2 linked regions of the Homo sapiens genome follow. The protein of the gene in region 2 purifies or fractionates together with the protein of the main gene of each other region. This does not show direct contact. Each region holds a gene or a part of one and is shown on either strand. Other genes may lie near its edges. The genes, in order: PPP3CB and TFEB.

Region 1 (3,814 bases), on a different chromosome or scaffold from region 2:
TGAAAAATTACATTTGCATTGAATTAGTTCAGATAATAAGCACTTACCATATGTAAGGCAATATTCATAATCAATGAAACAAACATAAAACATGGACCTTCCCTTCATGGGCAGCATGGCATAATGCTTAAGATCAGAGGATCAGAATCCTATCTCCATCACTTAGAAGTTTTGTGGTTTTGGACAAGTTACTTGAGATCTTTGCTTCAGTTTCTCATTTGTAAAATAAAGATGATATTACATACTTCATAGTGTTGTTTGAGGAATAAATTAGGGGAATTATATAGTGCTTCACATATTGTAAGTACTTAATAAATGTTAGCTGCTGTTATTTTGACAGTATTATTTACTAATACGCATCTGTAGACCAGTGTGCTAATTGTTTTTATATTGGGCAGTCTGTAAATCCAAAGTAATTAAATAGATTGTTTGACTCATTCATTCAACAAATATTTATTGCTCTTCTCCTATTTGCTAGGTACTCTTCTGGGAGTGGAGAATCAAAAGTGAATAAGATGACAAAATCTGTGATTTTGTGGTGCTTATATTTTAGTAAGGGACAAAGAAAGATAATAGAGGATGGTAAGGGTAGTAGAGGAAAAGGAGCAAAGATCAAGCAGCTTCATTAAACAAAAGTACAAGATAAATTCACTAGAAAAATTTTCTTTTGCAGTGTGTCTTATATTTATGGGTTCTGAAGATTCTATACCCAAGCACATTATTTCTTCTGAGAGGCAACCATGAATGCAGACACCTTACTGAATATTTTACCTTTAAGCAGGAATGTGAGTACTGCCAGAAGAAATGTTTTCACTTCCTCAGTATTCTTTTGGACTTAAGTGGGTAGTAAGAGTTTTGAAGACTTTACAGTGCAACATGTAAGGACAGATTTCATGTCCACACATAAAGCTTTGAGGAAAGTTGTCGAGCACTCTCTGGTGTTTAATGGTATTAAGAAGTTTTTGGTGGGGCATGGTGGTTCACGCCTGTAATCCCAGCACTTTGGGAGGCCCAGGCAGGGGGATTGCCTGAGCTCAGGAGTTGGAGACCAGCCTGGCCAACATGGTGAAACCCCATCTCCACCAAAAATACAAAAAAAAAAAATTAGCTGGGTGTGGCGGCACACTCTTGTAGTCCCAGCTGCTCAGGAGGCTGAGGTGGGAGGATCGCTTGAGCCTGGGAATCGGAGGTCATAGTGAGCTGAGATCATGCCACTGCACGGACAATTGCCTGGGCAATAGAGTCAGACCCTGTCTCAAAAAAAAAAATTTTTTTTCATTTCAGAATTTCTTATTATGTTTAACTTTTACAAACATACTTAGAGTTTTATATATAAGTTTTAATGTTACAATTAATTTTTCTAAGCCAGGCACGGTAGCTCACGCTTGTAATCCCAGCACTTTGGGAGGCCGAGGCGGGTGGATCACCTGAGGTCAGGAGTTCAAGACCAGCCTGGCCAACACGGCAAAACCCCATCTCCTAAAAATACAAAAATTAGCCAGGCGTGGTGACATGTGCCTGTAATCCCAGGTACTCAGGAGGCTGAGGCAGGAGAATCACTTGAACCTGGGAGGCGGAGGTTGCAGTGAGCCGAGATCGCGCCATTGTACTCCAGCCTGGGCAACAAGAGCGAAACTCTGTCTCAGGAAAAAAAAATGTATATATTTTTTCTAACAGGAAAAAATAAAAACCAAAAGAAAAAAATGTTATTTTGCATTGGAGATTTTTGTCCTTCAATCTTGAGGCATTCCTGTGAGGAATCCTAACAAATTGTTTATCCTGTTACCATTGCAGATCATTTCAATCATGCTATTAATGATTGAAATTCTTCTTAAAATTTTTTTGTTTTTTTAAATATCATTGTTTTAAGACTAGTCAGGTACAGTTGGTGAAATTCTTAACCTGCAATGTTTATCCCTTTTCTCTCTCAAATTATTATAGCAATGGTAATCTAATACCTGTAAGTAACCATATGTTACAGAACAAGATTAGGCCTTTTTCACACCTCAAACCTTTGTGCTTTTTTATTATTTTTGTTATTTTTATTTTTTTTTTGAGACAGTCTCGCTCTGTCGCCCTGGCTGGAGTGCAGTGGTACAATCTCGGCTCACAGCAACCTCCTCCCGGGTTCAAGTATTCTCCTGCCTTAGCCTCCCAAGTAGCTGAAATTACAGGCATGCGCCACCACGTCCTGCTAATTTTTGTATTTTTGGTAGAGGCGGTGTTTCACCATGTTGGCCAGGCTGGTCTCTTAACTCCTGACCTCAAGTAATCCACCTGCCTCGTCCTCCCAAAGTGCTGGGATTACAGGTGTGAACCACCGCATCTGGCCTGCCTTTGTGCTTTTTAAGTTAATATTTATGACTGTATTAAGTAGAGTTAAATTCTAAAAGCAGAAATAATTTCAACGTTTTGAGACTCAAAACATGATCCAATAAAGGTCATACTAAGTAGAGACTTGCAGCAACAGGAGAAAAATACAGTGATGGGTAGTGGCAGAAGTGGCATACTCTTATAACTTCAAGGATCAGGCAGTTAACCTAAATGAGTAAGATAAGACCTGGAAAGTGCATGCTTGACCTAAAAGCAGTCAAATTAGAATTTTTATTAAACCACAGTGCTAGAAAACAGAGTCGTTAGCAGACTGCCAGTGTAGAATCTCTGGTTGCTGGATATATATATAGTTTTTTTAATATTTGAATATTACAGTATTAAAACAGGAAATAGGAACTAAGTTCTTTTTCTTTGCCTAGATAAATAACAAACCACCTACCAAAATCTCATCAAAACCAAAATAGGAATTTAAAGTTGTAAAGGAGCAAATGAAAGTGCATGATATCTCTCTAAAAGTAAATGATAGTTTGATTTGGTAGAGTTTTGTCTTTCTTGTGTTTCTATATTGGCTTCCTGCTTCACTGCCCATTTTAAAGTATTCATTGTAGGCAAGAGGAACCCCTCAGCTTTTCTGACATGAGCATGCTATTATCTTTTATTTTTCAGAAAAAATGGATGAACCTTGAATTTTGTTGTGATGATGTAGTCATCTTGCCTGTAATAAGAATAAAGTAGTCATTGACTCTTAGAATAAAATAAAGCAAGTATTAAAATGATTTTAACCTCAAGTACAGTTCTAATTTTGCCTTATTTGGCCGATAAAGGTGAAGGGTTGAGCTGTTTTTAAGAGATTTCTTTCTTTTTTTTTTTTTTTTGAGACAGAGTCTTGCTCTGTCGCCCAGGCTGGAGTGCAAGTGGCACGATCTCGGCCCACTGCAGCCTCCACCTCCTGGGTTCAAGTGATTCTTGTTCCTCACCCATTGAGTCTCTGGGATTACAGGTGCACACCAGCATGCCTGGCTAATTTTTGTATTTTTAGTAGAGACAGTGTTCTGCCATGTTGGCCAGACTGGTCTCAAACTCCTGGCCTCAAGCGATCTGCCTGCTTTGGCCTGTCAAAGTGCTGGGATTACAGGCGTGAGCCACCGTGCCTGGCCTGTTTTTAGAGATTTGACTGACTTATTTTTAACAATACGTGATGACTTTTCTGTCATCCAAAATAATTTTAGAGAGCAAATATTTTGCTTCATAAGACATAACATCATCGAGAATAATTTTAGAGAGAGCAAATATTTTGTCTTCATAAGACAGATAACTTTGCATATTTTTGTTGATTCTTATAGGGGAAGATGCTTTCCTTAAAAAAATTGTGTGCAGTAAGATTTATTCTCTGTGGTATTTACTTCTGTGACTTTTGACACTGCATAGAGTTGCCCACTACCACTATCATGATACAGAAAAGTTTTATCATGCCATAAGT
Region 2 (3,814 bases):
TGAACTTCTAGAAGGAATTCTCCTCCCATCCTAGTAACTAGCATGGGGCTGAGGGCAGATAATACTTGTCAGCTGCTGCCCACCCAGACCCATCACCCTCCCCCTCAGAAACCTGCTCACAGGTCATTGGCCTTGGGGATCAGCATTCCCAACTCCTTGATGCGGTCATTGATGTTGAACCTTCGTCTCCTTTCAACTAAAGGTAACAGATTCCAGAAGGAGCAATTAGAGGGATGGGGACCCCCCACCCCATGGGGAGAAGTACCCAGCCCAGGGAGGGGTGCTTCAGGGCAGCCTGCAGCTTAGATTTAGTTCTTCCAGGAAGTAAGAGGTGACCAACAGATTGGGATTTCTACAGGAATTAGGGGGTCCAGGGCAAAGGCCAGACACAATTAAGAGCACTGAAAGGTAGAATCAGCCATGGTGATGCTCGTAGCACAGCAAAGCTGCCTGGGGTAGGACTCTTCCCTGCTACACAGAACTCTGATGCCCCAGGTTCCATGCCTTAACCCAGAAAACAACCTGATAAACTGGGGGTTTCATGAATATCCCTTACAGGAATCCTTCCTACCCACTCCTAAAGAGGCCTAGTGGAAAGACAGCACTAATAGTCCCAGGCACCACTGAGCGACAGCAATGGGAGGGCTTAAGCCATCTGCAAGTGAATTGGCCTTGAGCAGGGAAGCCTTCCACCAGTGCAGGTCAGGGAGTGGCTTTTTAGCCAGCCCAGGTGAGAACAAGGAAGAGGGAGGCAGGGAGAGGGGCGGGGCAGGACTCACTTAAGTTGTGATTGTCTTTCTTCTGCCGCTCCTTGGCCAGGGCCCTGCTCTCAGCATCTGGAGGCCAAAAGAGAAGGAGAGAGGAGCTGGGAGGGAGGGAGAAAAGGAGGGAGGAGTCGGGTATTCAAAGGCACAGGGGTAGAGGGAGGCAGTACCTGTGAGCTCTCGCTTCTGGGTCAGGTCCGCAGGGCAGGAGCTGCTGGTGACGCCCACCAGGGAGGCTGTGACCTGGGGGTCGCTGCTGTACACATTCAGGTGGCTGCTGGACAGGGGTAGCTGTGGGGTAGGGGGTGAGGGAGACCCATGAGTATCCCCCTCTCCACGGGGAGCCCCCTCTAGGGCCTATCATCCCAGGAGCAGTCCTTCCTGGGGACACCTGGAGTGTCAAAATTCACCTTGGGCCCTTTCACCCAGCAATTCAACCTGAAGGTCTGCAGAGTCCAGAGCTATTATAAGATGTAGTCCCTGCCCTCAAGGAGCCCCTGGCCTAGAGTGTCTGAGAGAGTGATCCAACCAATAATATGTGATAGGATTAGGCCCCAGGCATTATGGAAGCCCTAGAGCAGGTCATCTAATCAATTCTAGAGTTTCTGGACGGTTTCCTGGAGGGTGTGGAACTCTGAGTCTTGAGCAGAGATGTGAGGCAAGGCACTCCGGGCAGCCACCAGGGCACAAGCAGACAGGGCAGCTTGGCAGAGCACAATTCCAGCAGCTCAAGGGCAGAAGTGGTGGGGGTGGAGGTGCTGTAGGCAGGGCAGATGTATCTGGATCCCCAGTACAGTGTTTGACTTGCAAAGATACTGGAATTTTGGAATGGGCAGCCAAGGGAAGTTGAAGCAGGAGTCTGACAGGGAGAGATCTGAGCTCTGGAAAGATCTGCCACAGAAACATGCAGAACAAATCACAGGCCCAGACACCCCACAGTGTACACAGGAACTACTAAAGGGACCAATCACTTGCATCCTCCCTCCCTCCTCAGCCCTCGCTGCCCCTGCTAGCTGTAGGTTTGGACCCAACCAGTCCCGGCCAGCTCCTACTAAGCCACTCAGCGATGTCACCAGGGCAGTGGGGACAGAGGATTGACTCCCCACCACAGGAACTGGGGACTTTCCCTTGGTGGCATGGGCTGGGGCCAGGATCAGGGTGAAAGGCTCATGCCCAAAGGCAGGAGTAAGTAGCTGAGGTTCAGGAGCTCCAAAGAAAAGTGGGTGGAAGGGGCGCTGGCAATCCCACCTGCCCAGCGTACACACCTGCCACCTTTGTAGAGAGCTTGCCCTCAATTTCTTCCCTCATCTAATCTTCCCACAATCCTGTGGGTAGAGAGCATCACCCCCATTTTGCAGCTGAGAAAACTGGGGTTTAGTATGCTTGAGGGATTTCCTAAGGTCACAGCAAAAGCCAGAAGCCAGGCTTCTTGACTCCAAGCCCAGCACCTCCCCACCTGCTACCCCACCTCTGCCAGGAGACGCAGGAAGCTGCCAGAGGGAGTGTTCCTGTGGTTGGGGACAAGGCCAGCCCCAGATCACTTGCCCCATGGAGTAAGAGACACAGACAGGCTTTTGCCTGTTGGGCCCTGGGTTTGGTAAAGGAGGGGAGGCCCAGGTCCCCAAAGGAGCTCATTAGTTCCACACCTTCCCATAGACACACTGCCCCTCCACCCATGCAGTGCTCTCCCTGCCTCCCTCTGCCCCTTCGCCAACCTGGAAAGCTCCCCCCACAGGCCCACTCCGTGTCCCCAGCCCCTTCTCCCCTCTGAAGCCCCATGGTGCACAGAGGCTGAGGCACATCCTTCTTGCTTCATAATTCCTCTTGGCCCCGGCCTTTGTCACATTATTTAATGAAAATGACTCATCTCTACAGAAACATGCCAGCTCTGCCCAGTGAGAACCCTGTCTCCACTCTCTCCAGGCTCAGAGCCACAGTGGGTGCCCCCCTCCCTAGAACCCTTGCACACCCACCCCACCCTAGCCAGGAGTACCGTGTTGGGCATCTGCATTTCAGGATTGATGTAGCCAAGGACATCGTCCAGACGCATAATGTTGTCAATGACATCATCCAACTGGAAAAGAGAAAAGTCCATCTGGGGAGGGCCCACCACGAGGTGGGCAGGGGAAAGAGGCATTGGGACAACCACTGACCTGGAGGGACCTTGGAGCCCACCTCACCCAACCTACTTATCTGGGGAAAGAGGAAATAGGCCCAGAGAAGAGATGAGCTGTCCAGGTCCCACTGGCCCAACATGAAGCTACGGTTCTTGCCAAGGAGCCTACCTGCCCAGGGAGCTTCCTTGATCTCACTTCTGTCTCTGGCTTGGGGAGTGTGCTGGGCTTTCCTGGATAAGTCTTCTGTTTCTCCCTAGCAGAGCTTTCTTTTTTCTTTTTTCTTTTTTTTTTTTCGAGAAGGAGTCTCACTCTGTCGCCCAGGCTGAAGTGCAGTGGCTCGATCTCAGCTCACTGCAACTTCCGCCTTCCCGATTCAAGTGATTCTCCTGCCTCAGCCTCCCAAGTAGCTGGGATTACAGGCGTGCACCACCACGCCCAGCTAATTTTTGTATTTTAGTAGAGATAGGGTTTCACTATGTTGGCCAGGCTGTTCTCAAACTCCTGACCTCAAGTGATCTGGCTGCCTCAGCCTTCCAAAGTGCTGGGATTACAGGCGTGAGCCACGGCACCTGACTTCCTAGCAGAGCTTTTGAAAGTAAGGATGGCGTTTCCTCTGTGAGGCTCCCTGAGGGCAGGGCTGTGTCTTCCCCCCTGAGATTGGGGCTCCCTGAGAAGGGCTCTGTCCCCACCTCAGACTGAGTCTCCCTGAAGGCACCCCTGCCTCTGCCATTAGACTGGGAGTCTCAGAAGCACAGCAGTGGGCACGAGCTCTGCAAGCAGCATGGCCACTGGCCAGCTCCTCACTCACCTCCCTCTCAGGGTTGGAGCCAATGTGCAGCATGGCCATGGGGCTATTGGGAGCACTGTTGCCAGCGGAGGAGGACAGCACGTGTCCAGCTCGCACCCCTGGGGAGGCGGCTGGTGGGGGTTTCG

Evidence for each region.
Region 1: the proteins of TFEB (region 2) and PPP3CB purify together in Homo sapiens (co-immunoprecipitation; one study listed by IntAct). This does not show direct contact.

Annotation. Positions count from the first base shown.
Region 1 is NC_000010.11:73,471,890-73,475,703, reverse strand, and holds part of PPP3CB (serine/threonine-protein phosphatase 2B catalytic subunit beta isoform), read left to right. Parts: intron 1-673; coding exon 674-785; intron 786-3,814. UniProt on the Homo sapiens protein: Calcium-dependent, calmodulin-stimulated protein phosphatase which plays an essential role in the transduction of intracellular Ca(2+)-mediated signals.
Region 2 is NC_000006.12:41,686,974-41,690,787, forward strand, and holds part of TFEB (transcription factor EB), read right to left. Parts: coding exon 3,690-3,814; intron 2,839-3,689; coding exon 2,758-2,838; intron 1,056-2,757; coding exon 935-1,055; intron 837-934; coding exon 780-836; intron 197-779; coding exon 121-196; intron 1-120. UniProt on the Homo sapiens protein: Transcription factor that acts as a master regulator of lysosomal biogenesis, autophagy, lysosomal exocytosis, lipid catabolism, energy metabolism and immune response.